Homo sapiens: one gene and its partner. The protein of the gene in region 1 purifies or fractionates together with the protein of each later gene. This does not show direct contact. Each region holds a gene or a part of one and is shown on either strand. Other genes may lie near its edges.

The links.
Region 2: the proteins of ABAT (region 1) and PGM2 fractionate together in Homo sapiens (co-fractionation; 2 studies listed by BioGRID). This does not show direct contact.

Annotation. Positions count from the first base shown.
Region 1 is NC_000016.10:8,768,508-8,775,800, reverse strand, and holds part of ABAT (4-aminobutyrate aminotransferase, mitochondrial isoform 1 precursor), read right to left. Parts: intron 6,977-7,293; coding exon 6,828-6,976; intron 3,022-6,827; coding exon 2,884-3,021; intron 912-2,883; coding exon 744-911; intron 1-743. UniProt on the Homo sapiens protein: Catalyzes the conversion of gamma-aminobutyrate and L-beta-aminoisobutyrate to succinate semialdehyde and methylmalonate semialdehyde, respectively. Can also convert delta-aminovalerate and beta-alanine.
Region 2 is NC_000004.12:37,829,505-37,836,797, reverse strand, and holds part of PGM2 (phosphopentomutase), read right to left. Parts: intron 6,835-7,293; coding exon 6,667-6,834; intron 2,181-6,666; coding exon 2,074-2,180; intron 1-2,073. UniProt on the Homo sapiens protein: Catalyzes the conversion of the nucleoside breakdown products ribose-1-phosphate and deoxyribose-1-phosphate to the corresponding 5-phosphopentoses.

The DNA of each region.
Region 1 (7,293 bases):
TAGTCAAGTATTGGAAATAGACATATTATGTGAGATTTCTAGAAAGGCTGCTAAAGACAAGAAGGGGGCCACTTTGTCCTTCCCTTCTTTTTCTTTCCTACTGCCTAGAATTGAGATGTGATGGCTGGAGCATCAGAAGCCATTTTGGACCATGAGGCAACCTTGAGGGTAGAAACTACATGTAGGAATGGTGAAAGGACGTTGGCCCCTGATGGCTGTGTGTGTGTGTGTGTGTAAATCTGTATGCACACATGGCAGTACACAGTGTAGTGGGTAAGAGTATGGGCTCTGGGTTGGAATCCTGGCTTTGTCACTTAACAGGCTGTGTGACCTTTGACAAATTACTTAACCTCTCTGTGCCTGATTCCTCATTAGTCAAATGAGGATAAAAATAACAGCTACTTGGTTAGATTGTTCTCAGGATTAAAAGTATATGAGAAATACTTAGAACTAGGCACATAGCAAATGCTCAGTCTGCTGCGGCAGCTGTCGATGATATTATTGTGTGTGCACACAGAGAGAAAACAGGAAAAGGCTGATGGTGGACTGTTCCAGAGTTGGCCTTACAGAGAGAGCTGGGAGGGCACACCACTGCTAATTGCATTGATAAGAACTGGGACTTAGAAAACCTGCGACCCAGTAAGTGCCCACCCAGCTCCTCGATGGTGAGAAAGGAACAGTTAGGAGAAGAGGATGCTCCCTTCTCTGCCCTGGATGTAGAGAGAAGGTTGGCTCCAACTCACAGCATTAGGCCTGAACTCCTCCTTGTGGAAGAAGCCCCCAGTCATCATCTTCTTGCTGAAGGTCATCACGTCTGCTGGGTCATCCAGGCCCCAGTGCTCATGGGCCCAGAACTTGCCCGTGCAGCCTCCTCCGGTCTGGACCTCGTCCACCAAGAAGGCGCAGCCATGCTGGCCGGAGAAGAGAGAGGAGGGAGAAATAAACACCCGTGGGAGGCCAGAAATTCATGCCCTCCATAGCCAGCTAACTGCCAAACCCTGGGTCCACACACATCGTGCTTGTTTTCTGAAGAGCAAACCAGCCCCATGTTCTTGAGCTGTGCACAAAAAAAACTAATCAAAACACTTAAGCTGAGCAGTTCCAACCAGAGCTGAATCTGAGTGTTTCCTAAAACTGCTAAGCTGGACCAAAAAAACCCAGAACATTAAATACTCCCTGCACCAACACAGAGCGGTATGTCATCTGGCTTCAGTCTCGGGTCTCGACCTCGTCAGAGGGAGCTGTGTCCAACAGTGAGGCCTCGAATGTGCTTCTCAAACTTCAGCTGCCATGTTCTGCTTGTCACCAAGGCTATTTCTAACTCAGCATCTGTGTTAAGTCAACTCACGTCTTATAACTTTTATCTGTGAACTTATCGGTTTGATTGCCAGTTATATATGCACAAGACATTAAAACAAACACACAATATAAAGAAAGCAAATCAGTGTGTCAAAGAGATACCTGCACTCCCATGTTTATTGCAGCACTGTTCACAATAGCCGAGATACAGAATCAATCTGTCCATCGATGGATGAATGGATAAAGTAAATATGGTACATATACACACTCGGCAAGGCGCGGTGGCTCTCACCTGTAATTCCAGCACTTTGGGAGGCTGAGGCGGGCAAATCACCCAAGGCCAGGAGTCTGAGCCAATCAGCCTGGCCAACATGGCGAAACCCCGTCTCTACTGAAAATACAAAAATTAGCTGGGCATGGTGTCGTGCACCTGTAATCTCAGCTACTTGGGAGACTGAGGCAGGAGAATCACTTGGACCCAGGAGGCAGAGGTTACAGTGAGCCAAGATCGTGCCACTGCACTCCAGCCTGGGCAACAGAGTGAGACTGTCTCAAAAAAAAAGAAAAAGAAAATATGGTACATATACACAAAGAAATACTATTCAGCCATAAAAAGAATGAAATTATGTCATTAGCAATGACGTGGATGGAACTACAGGACATTATGTTAAGTGACATAAGCCACACATACACAAATATTGCATGTTCTCACTCAGGTGGGAACTAAAAACACTTCCCTTATGAAGAAATAGAGTCGAATGACGCCTATCAGAGGCTGGCAAGGCTAATGGGGAGGTGGAGATAAATAGGGGTTGGTTAATGGATACAAAAGTACAGTTAGATAGAAGAATAAGATCTAGTGTCCAGTAGCACAATAGGGTGATTTTAGTTAATAATTTATTGCATAGTTCAAAATAGGAGTGGATTTGGAATATTCCCAATACAAAGAGATGATAAATATTTTAGGTGATGGATATCCAATTACCCAGATTTGATCATTACGCACTGCAACTATTATGTATCCAAAAAGGTTTTTTAAAAAGATTTTAAGGCCAAGTGTGGTGGCTCAGGCCTGTAATCCCAGCACTTTGGGAGGCTGAGGTGTGCAGATCACCTGAGGTCAGGAGTTCAAGACCAGCCTGGCCAACATGGCGAAATCTCGTCTCTGTTAGAAATACAAAAATTAGTTGGGTATGGTGACGTGTGCCTGTAGTCCCAGCTACTCGGGAGGCTGAGGTAGGAGAATCACTTGAACCTGGGAGGTAGGGGTTGCAGTGAGCTGAGATTGCACCACTGCACTCCAGCCTGGGTAACAGAGTGAGACTCTGTCTCAAAAAAAAAAATATATATATATGTGTGTGTGTGTGTGTGTGTGTGTGTGTGTGTGTGTGTGTGTATAGTTTTAGGGAAGAATCCCCATTCTTTCACCAACCCCAACTTCTCCACCCCTGATGCTGACAGACAGCCTCTGCAAGTCTGGAGATTGACAGAAGCTCCAAGGCAGAGGTGCTGCTGGCCCGTTACTCGGGGAACTCAACCCAGAAAACCCAATGGCTCCATCCAACCTCGGCCCTGTCCACTGACCTTCCTGGCGATGTCTCTCAGCTTCCGAAAGAAGTCATCGGATGCGTGGTTGTCTCCACCCTCGGACTGGATGGGCTCCACGATGATCCCGGCCACCGTCTTCTTCTTTTTCCGATATTTCACAATCAGATCCTCCACCTGGATCCCAAAGGGGAAAGTGACCACCGATGGCAGAGGCTTGTGACCAGTATCCGTGGGTGGGAATCTGGGGTTCGATGAGCCCCATGCAATTTTATTGGAAATGTGTTTGTGTGCATTTCCTAAGACCAGTGAAGCCTCTGTTAGAAGCTATGTGTGTGGATGGGAATGTATCCTACTTGAAATCGGTGCTAGCACCTGGGTGGATACAAACTAATAAATTGGGGCAAGTAATTTAGCTTCAGAAGCCTCACTTTCCTGATGTGTTGTATGGGCACACTGACAGAATCCACCTTCCAGGGTCGTGGAGAGGACTGAATGAGAAAATATAGCACTATGAGTTGATTGCTGGGCCAGATGTTTTAGCTGTGGTTCTGCCTCTGTTTTACATGGAACATGCACCTGTCACTTAACCTTGTTATGTGGGAAATAGCTACATCACGGGTATATTGAGAGAAATAAAGGTGAGAGCATTCACACACACACACACACACACACACACACACACACACACACACACACACACAGAGACAGAGAGAAAATACAGCAGAGTCTGGCACACATAAAGTGGTGGCTGCTACTATTACGATTAGCACGACTATATTATTATTGATTATTATTGTTCCTATTCTTACAGTATTATTGCTATGATTGGTGTGAGAATCCTTTTGGGGCAGAATCGGAGATATATCCTCGGTTAAAAAACTGTTCTAAGGGCCAGGTGTGGTGGCTCACACCTGCAATCCCAGCACTTTGGGTGGCTGAGGCAGGAGGATACCTTGAGGCCAGGAGTTTGAGACCAGCCTGTGCAACATAGCGCGGTTCATGTCTGCAAAACATTTAGAAATTAGCTGGGCATGGTGGCTGCGTGCCTGTAGTCTCAGCTACTTGAGAGGCTGAGGTGGGAGGACCCCTTGAACCAGGACTGTGAGATCGCAGTGAGCTATGACCACACCACTGCACTCCAGCCTGTGCAACACAGCAAGATCCTGTCTTTGTTAAAAAGAAAGAGGCTGGGCATGGTGGCTCACACCTGTAATCCTAGCACTTTGGGAGGCTAAGGCGAGCAGATCACCTGAGGTCAGGAGTTCCAGACCAGCCTGGCTACCATGGTGAAACCCCATCTCTACTAAAAATACAAAAATTAGTTGGGCATGGTGGCTCACGCCTGTACTCCCAGCTACTCCAGTGGCTGAGGCACGAGAATCGCTTGAACCCAGGAGGTAGAAGTTGCAATGAGCCGAGATATCGTGCCACTGCACCCCAGCCTGGGCAAGAGAGTGAAACTCTGTCTCAAAAAAAAAAAAAAAAGAAAGAAAAACCCTAAACCGTACACCTAGATAGACTAACAAGTGAAAGCTTTCTTTATTATGTACAATTAAGAAAAAGCCTCTGTTTGGGTGATATGATTTTGACCTTGGTCTCCACCAGTCACCCCAAGGAAGCTCTGAGATACTTTTCTTGGTTTTCTTTTTTTTTTTTTTGAGATGGAGTTTTACTCTTGTTGCCCAGGCTGGAGTGCAATAGCGCAATCTCAGCTCACCGCAACCACCACCTCCCGGGTTCAAGTGATTCTCCTGCTTCGGCCTCTGGAGTAGCTGGGATTACAGGCATGCACCACCATGCCCGGCTAATTTTGTATTTTTAGTAGAGATGGGGTTTCTCCATGTTAGTCAGGCTGCTCTTGAACTCCTGACCTCAGGTGATCTGCCCGCCTCAACCTCCCAAAGTGTCGCAGTTACAGGCATGAGCCACCGCGCCCGGTTTTTCTTTGTTTTTAGAGCATTGTGCTGTAAGTGTAAAATACACACAGTGTTTCAAAAACTGAATACGAAGAAAAGGACTATCTTAGTTTGTTTAGACCTAAATAAATGAATTTTTAAAATAAAGGAATTTTTAAAAAGGAATATAAAAATCACATTGTTTAAAAATACTAATTACACATTTACGTGATAATATTTTGAATATATTCGGTTCAATAAAATGCTCTGAAAATGAATTTCACCTATTTCTTTGTAATTTTAAAAAACGTGACTCCTGGCCACGCACGGTGGCTCACACCTGTAATCCCAGCAATTTGGGAAGCCGAAGTGGGCAGACCACTTGGGCCCAGGAGTTTGAGACCAACCTGGGCAACACGGCAAAACCTGTTTCTGCAAAAAATACAAAAATTAGCCAGGTGTGGTGGTGTCATGTGCCTTAGTTCCAACTACTCAAGAAGCTGAGGTGGGAGGATCACCTGAGCCCAGAGAGGTCGAGACTGCAGTGAGCTGTGATTGCACCACTGCACTCCAGCCTGGGTGACAGAGTGAGACCCTGTCTCAAACAAAACAAAAGAAAAGAAGGCCGGCGCGGTGGCTCACACCTGTAATCCCAGCACTTTGGGAGGCCGAGGCGGGCGGATCACAAGGTCAGGAGATCGAGACCATCCTGGCTAACACGGTGAAACCCTGTCTCTATTAAAAATACAAAAAATTAGCCGGGTGTGGTGTCAAGCGCCTGTAGTCCCAGCTACTCAGGAAGCTGAGGCAGGAAAATGGCATGAACCCAGGAGGCGGAGCTTGCAGTGAGCTGAGATCGCGCCACTGCACTCCAGCCTGGGCAACAGAGCTAGACTCCATCTCAAAAACAAAGCAAAACAAAACAAAGCAAATGTGACTCCTTGGCAGTTTCCAGGCAGGGTGTAAAAATGAAAGAAAAGGTGACTACTGGAAAAGCTATAATTACATATGTGGCTTGCATTATATTTCTATTGGACAGTGCTGTACTTGATGCCATTATCTTGTCTTTTCTATTTACCACTGAATACCCAGCACCTAGCACCTTGCTTGACATCTAGTAGGTGCTCAATAAATATGAACTGATTGAAAATGATGATGTGCCTAAGAAAAAAACCAGCAGCCTTATTTGAGTTCAAATCTATACCCAAACAGTGATATTTTTTTCCAGCTGCAGATTACTTCCAATGTCTTCCCTGGAACCCCCATATACTGAGTGGATCTAAAGAGGGCTGTGTTAGATGACGTGGAAACGGGGGGTAGGGGGGTGCTGCCTGTCCTCAGCCTCTCCCATAGCATCCCCCGACCCACAGCAACTCAAAGCCCCAAGACTCAGGAGAAGACAAAACCAGTGGTTTAGAGGATCTTGTGGAACCATTTTTTCCTGTGGGATATCCCATATTCTTTCTTTCTCTCTCTCTCTTTTTTTTTTTTTTTTTTTTTTGGACAGAGTCTCACTCCGTTACCCAGGCTGGAGTGCAGTGGTGCAATCTTGGCTCATTGCAACCTCTGCCTCCCGGGTCCAAGGGATTCTTGTGCCTCAGCCTCCCTAGTAGCTGGGATTACAGGCATGTGCCACCACACCCAGCTAATTTTTAGTAGAGATGGGGTTTCACCATGTTGGCCAGGCTGGTCTCGAACTCCTGGCCTCAGGTGATCCTCCCGTCTCAGCCTCCCAAAGTGCTGGGATTACAGGCGGAGCCACCGTGCCCAGCCCCATATTCTTTCAACTGATCTGTTTTCTCTTATTTTAGAGTCATTGACTCTTGTCTTCCAAGAAACTTAAGTGATACAGAAATTGGTATCAGAGTTGGGTGATGGATGCTGTGACAGAAACAGTGTGTCTCACGAACTCTCCCAACATAGAACATTTGGGACGCAAGGCCTCTGTGTCCCTGCTTCCCTCTGGGGGAGCACTGCACAGATCCCCAGATAAACCCTTCATCTGTTTCTCTTCTCCCCAAGTCTTGGGGCGGCAAGAGCAACAGGACTGGTGGTTGGGGAGGATCCGCAGGGTATGAGCATTACCTCTTCCAGACAGCGGGCCTCCTCCTGTTGGTTCTCTTTCACAAACTCTTCCAGAGGGTATTTCAGCCGTGGGAACGGTGCGATGGGCCAGTCAAAGGAAGGGATGTCGATCTTGTGAATGGCTTTAGAGTGCGTGGTCGCTAAGCAACCTGAGTTCAGCAAAACAGAAAAGCAGACGCTTGGCTTGGGGAAGCAGGCAGTACCGTCTTTGTAAAGGAGATGATAGACATTTCAGCGCAAGGCTGTCAGTGGGCAGGGAGGCCTGTTGCCTGTGAAACCCCAGTTCTTTTTATCGTTTAATTTTTAATTTTTCTGGGTGCATAGGAGGTGTATATACTTGGGGAGTACATGAGATGTTTTGATACTGAACCCCAGTTCTCATCCGGAAGCTGAAGGGGGACTCTCGAACCCTTAATTGGCATGCGTGCGTGGGTATGTGTTTGCATTGCGATTAATCACAGATGCA
Region 2 (7,293 bases), on another chromosome or scaffold:
TTCTCAACTTCCACAGAAACTTGCTTAGGGTAAGACGCAGAAAATGGCATCAAATCTTCCTTCAAGCTGGTGTAAAATACGTTACCACAAATAAATGAGCGATTTACTTAGAATGAACAACATTATACCACCCCTGTGAGTTAAACAATCAGATCATTCTTACTCTCCCCAAATACTTCTTGGGCACTAGCTTCGCCGACACTATTCTGAAGGCTGGCTGGGGCACAAAGAGCAGATCGCCACTCTCTCTCTCTGTTACAAATGTGCACAAAAAAATGCAATGCGTTCTCTGCATATACTTAACAGTTACTGCTTACGTTCCCCACCAGATATTTAAAATTGGAAGATTAAAGGATAAACATCTCCTCGGGCGAAATTCAGAAACTGCAATAGTTTCCAACTCCTTACGAAGATTCCATTCACTCATCATGAATATTTTACCATGTGTTGGTTAAACACTTACATTATGATCTCTAAATGTCTCACGCGTTACAGGTGATAGAGAGTAGCCTTGAGTTCCACTCCATCCCATCCCATCAAACTCTGAGACTTGAACCATAAGCTTAAATCAGTAACATCACTCACTTTAAGGAAATGATACGGCTCCAAGGCCAGGGCAAAAAAATCTGTACCTTAATTGATAATGTTAACATATCTCTGAAGGTTGTATCAACCAGAAGCAGGGCAGTCAGCCCAAAATGAAGAAATTTACGCAGCTCAGCAGACAGACTTAGCCACATACGTGCACTTTGCATGCTCTGAGCAAAGGATCTGACTTGCCCTGGGGCGGCAGAGGAACACGGTCACGATTTAGTTCTGATTGTACATCCACTAACTGTAAATGACAAGCTGATATGCTGGTTTATACCACATCATTCTCTTGTGAATGTAGTTCATGTGCATCTATCCCCCAGAGCTATAACTTTTCTCTTGCTTTATTGACAAAAAGCACATTTTTGAGCTGCAAAGCTAAAGACTAAAAATCTTATGCCCTCCTGAGTTGAACCTGGGGCTGATGCCACCGGGTGATTTTCCCCGGCTATGCACCCTTCCTCACGGCCACACGTTTGTCCCCACGAGTGCTTCTGTCTTAGATTGGAAGCTCCTGATGGGCAAAGATAGGACTCTATAAACTCATCCAGCTCTGTAAAGCTAATAAGACTTTTCATTAATATTCAATATGTGTAATTCTAAGCTACTACTAATACTGATACTCTAGAATGATTAAAAATTCATCATAACAGAGGAAGTGTTCAAGTAAAAAAGAGGGTTATGTAACATGGTTACGGGCAGGGGTTGGTAACTACAGCCCATTTTGTAAGTAAAGTTTTACTGGAACACTGCCATGCTCCTGTGTTTATGCATTGTCGATGGATGTTTCTCTGCTTCATGGGAGAGGTGAGTAGTGGTGATGGGAATCATGTGATATGCAATGTGTATGATATCCACTATTTGCCCTTTAGAGAAAAAGTTTGCTGACCCCTGGTACTAGTGTCCTTAGGCTTAAATTGCGACTCCTCCTTTCACATTATAATCTCAGGGTAAAGAGATAAAAGTACATACCTTACACGTTGCTGTGAGGATAGAATGAGTAAATACATAAGTGTCTGGTTCATAATCAGCACTCAAATGATTGCTGCTATTACTATTATCATTGTCACCATCAGCATCATATGCCTTCAGCTACATAAGAGAGTCCCATTGGTTTGAGAATGTTTCAGAAATGCAGCTTGACGTGGGCGTTCAAGAGAGGGAAGGGGGTCATGAGGTTTATGAATAGCAGGGTAAAAATTATGTATAAAAAGGCAAATGAGAGGGAAAAATAATATTGCCAGTTTAAGAAATTTCTTTCTTTTAGCTAGGTATTACATTCTAAATTGTCTAAATAATTTTATTTCCTTAACCTAATGTAAAACCAGAATCTTTAAAAGTTGCCAAGAGAATTTACCCATTGTTTTTACAGTTAAGCAATGAGGCTAATGAATATATTAAAGTCAAGTTATTGAGATGGTGATTAAAATAAAACTGCAAAATAAATTATAAAAACATCATTTTGTAAAAATGTTTAAATACCTTCTGCTGCTACCCCCACTGGATGGATGAGCTCGGGCGTCAAAACTGATCACGATGCCTTTCTGCTTTAAGTCACTGAATTGTTTTTCCAGGTATCTGCAAAATCCCTACAAATACACCATAGATTTAAAAAGTATGTTTTAACATATTTTTATATATACCATATAGAAAAATTAGCCAAAAATTAAGTTTTCTCAAATTTCATAGAACACTATGGGAGAGAGGGAAAAATTCATCTCAGTAAGGAAGCAAACTGAACAATAATAAAATAACAGCTTTGTTTATTATCTATGTTTTTGTATTGGGCACTGTGTTAGTCATTGATCACTTAGTAGCTGTTATCTCTAACCTCAGATCAACTTTGTTAGGAAATTTTTTTTTTTTTCCAGAGACAGGGTCTTGCTCTGTTGCCTAGGCTGGAGTTGCAATGGCACAATCATAGTTCACTGCAACCTTGAATTCCTGGGTTTAAGCAATCCCCCCCTACCTCAGCCTCCTGAGAAGCTAGGACCACAGGTGCATGCTACCAGGCCCAACTAATTTTTAAAAATTTTTTGTAGAGACAGGGTCTTGCAATGTTGCCCAGGTTGGTCTTGAACTACTGTCAAATAATCCTCCTGTCTTGACCTCCCAAAATGCTGGGATTACAGGTGTGGGCCACTGCACCTGACCAGAAAACCCATTTTATAGATGGGTAAAATAAGCCTCAGAGAGGCACAGTGACAGTTTCAGATATTCGAGTAGCAGAGCCTGGATTTGTATCCAGGGCTGGTGAGAGGTAGTTCAGTGTAGGGCTTAAAAGCACATACTCTAGAAGCACAATCTGAGAATTTGTACTCCACGCTGCCACCTACAAGCAAATGACAAGTTCCTTAATTTCTTGGTGCCTTAGTTTCCTCTTCTGTAAAACAGGAATAACAATAATACCTACCTCATAAGGAGTAAATGAATGAAAACATGCAAAGTGCTGAGAATTCAACACCAACTAAGTACTATATTAAGTGTTTGCTGTTTTACGCATTATTTTTGTTGTTATTTTCCTTCAAAGCCATATAAAACAAAGAGAACTCTGGTTGATTGGGCAAAAATAATGATTCATTTTATATTATTTATTTCACTTTTGCTAAAGGAAGTCTTATTAAAATATACATAACTCTTTTTCTTTTGAGATGGGGTCTCACTCTCTCCCATGCTGGAGTGCAGTGACACGATCATGGTTCACTGCAGCCTCAATCTCTCAGGCTCAAGTAATCCTCTCACCTCAGCCTCCTGAGGTGCTGGGACTACAGGCACATGCTACCATGTCTGGCTAATTTTTAAAAAACAATTTTTGTAGAGATGGGATCTTGCCATATTGCCCAGGCTGGTTTCAATCTTGTGGGCTCAAGCAATCCTCCTGCCTTGGCCTCCTAAAGTGCTCGGATTACAGGCATGAGCCACCATGTCCAAGCCATAATTTTTATTTTGGGTAGGAGGGGATACATCACAGTCTTGTTGCGAGAGCCAAGCTAATTTAGAATGCCTTTAGCTTTTCCTTGACAAATACATTGCACTGGGATTATCTTCTGAGGCTGAGTGATACAAGGAAATAAGGCCATGTGTATTGGTTTTGTGGGTTCCCCAGAAGGTACCCAGATGCCTGATACTTCAAGACTTACAACAGTGACAGTACCCCTCTTCCTGCTCAACCCTTGAGCTGTGGCCCCAATGCTCCATGGGGCAAAAAAGCATTCACATCTCCAGATTCTCTAAAAATCTCGGAGGCCTGCTGAGGATGAGGACCTGAAAGAATGGCCAAGGGAAAAGGGAATTCTTATTCTAGATGAAAGACTCAGTGGGGGAAGAGGGAGGTTTTCAGAAATAAAATGTTATTATAAAACATAAGAAGCAAGTTTATGTGTATGACCTTCAAAAAGTAGAACTAAGACCAATATGTAAAGTCTACAGAAAGGCAGATTTTGGCTTAAAATAATGAAACCATCTTTTAATGAGAATGGTCCAAAGATAGAATGGCCTCTTTCAGAGGACAGTGAGTTTCCCATCACTGGTATGCTATGGCTAAATTAAATAATCTATGAACACAGAACCCAAAATAGAACATAAATAAAGCATAAATTAATTGGCAGGAGGAAATTATAACCTCTATCAATGAGGCAAACAATACAAAAGTTTCCTCCAGTCTCTGTCCTGTTTCCTTTGACATATTTTTGAATCACATACATCTGCTTCTTAAATGAACCAGGCAAACTTTGGGGTACCTCAGAATGAGGCTCCACACCCAGAGACCAGCAGGAAGGGCACCTATGCCACCATGAAAGTCTGATCAGTGAAAAGTGACAAATATATTTGCATATCAGCATTCTGCCAGGGAACACTACCCAAGACTGGGTAGAAACCTGGGTTGTTTGTTCTGGGAATCCTCTTGCCTCTAATTTTGAATCCACTCCTAAGATTTTAAAGATATACTTGCTGCTCAGATAAAACTTTCTTAACTCTTCACATCTCTGTCTCCTATTACAAGTATCCAAGAATAGGCTGAATGAGCACTTCAGAGTGGTGGGGTCATGGAGAAAATTATCCCAAGGGGTGTCTGGTTGAATTACATGACCTTTAGAATATTGATCATCTATGTTTACCACAGGGTTTACCCCCAGAGGAGATGAATTCTAGGATAAAAATGGGTAAGATAGTCCTTAATGGGAATACATTTCATTATTCTCAGAAACTAGATATAGAAAAATACAGGGGAAAAAGCTCTAGGTTAATCTAGAATCCCTTAGAAACCCCTAACAATTAGGCCCAATGGCAGGTGTAACCAACTGGATTGTCCAAAGATGGCCCCAGTAATATAAGCCATCTCACATGTTCCTCTTACAATGTGACATCAATGCTCCTTTAATGAGAAGTGGGTATCTATGTGCCCTCTCCTTGAATATGAGACAGCCTTATTGACTCACTTTTAACAAACCGAATACGGTAGAAGTGACACTGTGTGACTTTCAAAGCTACGTCATAAAAGTCAGCACAGCTTCCAATTGGCACATTCTCTCTCTCTCCCTCTCTGGATACTTCACTGAAAGCCAACCACCATGTTATAAGGAAGTCCAGGCCACATGAAGGGGTTCCAACCCCAGCTAAGATCCCAGCCAATAGCCAGTAATAATTTCAGACGTGTGAATGAAGGTGCCTTCAAATGATTCCAACCTCCAAACTGGCCCAGATGGTGCTGAGTGGAGCAGAGACAAGCTGTCCCCACTGAGTTCTACCAAAATTGCAGATTTGTGAGCAAAATAAATGTGGTTGTTGTTTTAAACCATTATGTTTTCAATGATTTGTTACATAGCCCTAGTAACTGGTACAGAAGGCAACCTTATTCAGCAGCACAGTTCCTATGTTATCCATGAACCAAACAGGATTCCCATACTTACCCCATTCTAAGTCTTTCCTCCAGCATCTCAGGGAGCCCTATTGCTTAATAACAATTTGTGACCAGGAGTTCCCATGGCAATTCTTTTTTTTTTTTTTTTTTTTTGAGACAGAGTCTTGCTCTGTTGCCCAGGCTGGAGTCCAGTGGCACAATGTCGGCTCACTACGACCTTGCCTTCCGGGTTCAAACAATCCTTCTGTCTCAGCCTCCCAAGAAGCTGGAATTACAGGTGCACACCACCACGCCTGGCTAATTTTTGTATTTTTGGTAGAGACAGGGTTTCACCATGTTGCTCAGGCTGGTCATGAACTCCTAGGCTCAAGTGATCTGCCTGGCTCAGCCTCCCAAAGTGCTGGGATTACAGGTGTGAGCCATCGCGCCTGGCCCCTGTGGTAATTCTATACCCTTAGATAAGCTTTCCTTGTTGGAGTTTTGTTACAACATGCCCAGCTCTGCCTTTTACACTGGGATGTATACGTGAGGCACATGTAATCACTATTAGGCAATTTTTTCTAGCCTTTCTTTTCCCACAATTAAAGTGACATTCATCATCAACAGGTCTAAGGTGAAGAAATACTGATGTGAATAATCTGTTCTATTTCATTTCCCTCATAAACAGTACTGCCAATACCCAGTAGAAGCACTTCTGTTTTGTCAAATTATCTCCTTCCTAAAAGCTGGGTCTAGATTCTGACAAAAATATTCACAAATTAAGACAGACTCAATCCATACTATAAAACAAAGGAGAACAGGCTCTTGGTAACTCCGGCAGTTAGAAAAGCTTTTTAGCACTTGCTATGTAATCATGGCAAAAATTACAGGACCTTAAAAGTTGTCAGCTTAGTTGGTGCATTTATACTGGAATGAAAGCTCCATGAGAGAATCTGTTTGTTCGAGTCATTCTTATATCCCCAGTGCTGGCACATGGTATGTACTCAATAAGTGTGTTAAATGAATGAATGAATGGATGGATGGCTATATGAGTCCTGAATAAGTGCTACTTCGACCTATTGTGCAAGCCTTACTTTATGGAGTAAATGGTGGTGACTTCCTGTGTCTAGCCAAGCTGGTAAGACATGTCTATAATTAGAATAAATTAGGTCTGCCAAATAGAAAATGAGCTAGGGGATACATTGAGTTACTAAGAATTATAAAAAACATGGTACCTGTGTAGTCTGGATGATGGTCAAGTCATTCATACGAGAAATTCCAGGTCCCATAGCAGCTCGGAGGCCAGCTGTCCCAAACTCCATTCGGGCCCCAAAACATTTTCGTAGTTCTTCTTTATTACCTTCTGCTATTAGTCGTTTCACTGCCTCCAAAGTTAAGGAATTCTGAAAAACAAAAATGTATAGACACAGCCAGACAAGTGAATGAAAAATCAGAAATGTAAAAAAATTCACAATCATTCTAATCTATAGAAAATATATATATATGTATATATATATATGTAGACCTTTCAATTTTCTGATGCTTTTGAAATCTGAAATATGAAGTCAGTTTGACATTATAATGTAAGTGTTCTTTTCTTTCCTGTCAAGGTAAGCACCTTTGGAGAAATCAAAGTAGAGATTTTAGCATATGAGTCTAACCCCCAGAATGGAATCCCAGAATACCACTTGCCAACTCTAGGTGCTTGCGCAGATTATTCCAGTTCTCAAATTCTGTTTCCCTATTTGCAAAATGGGAATAATCTAGAACCTCCCTTACACGATTTTTAAGGTTTTAAGGTGGTTTACTTCAAATTAATGTAAAATATCTTTCTCTACCTGGCATTTAGTTGTGATTAAATG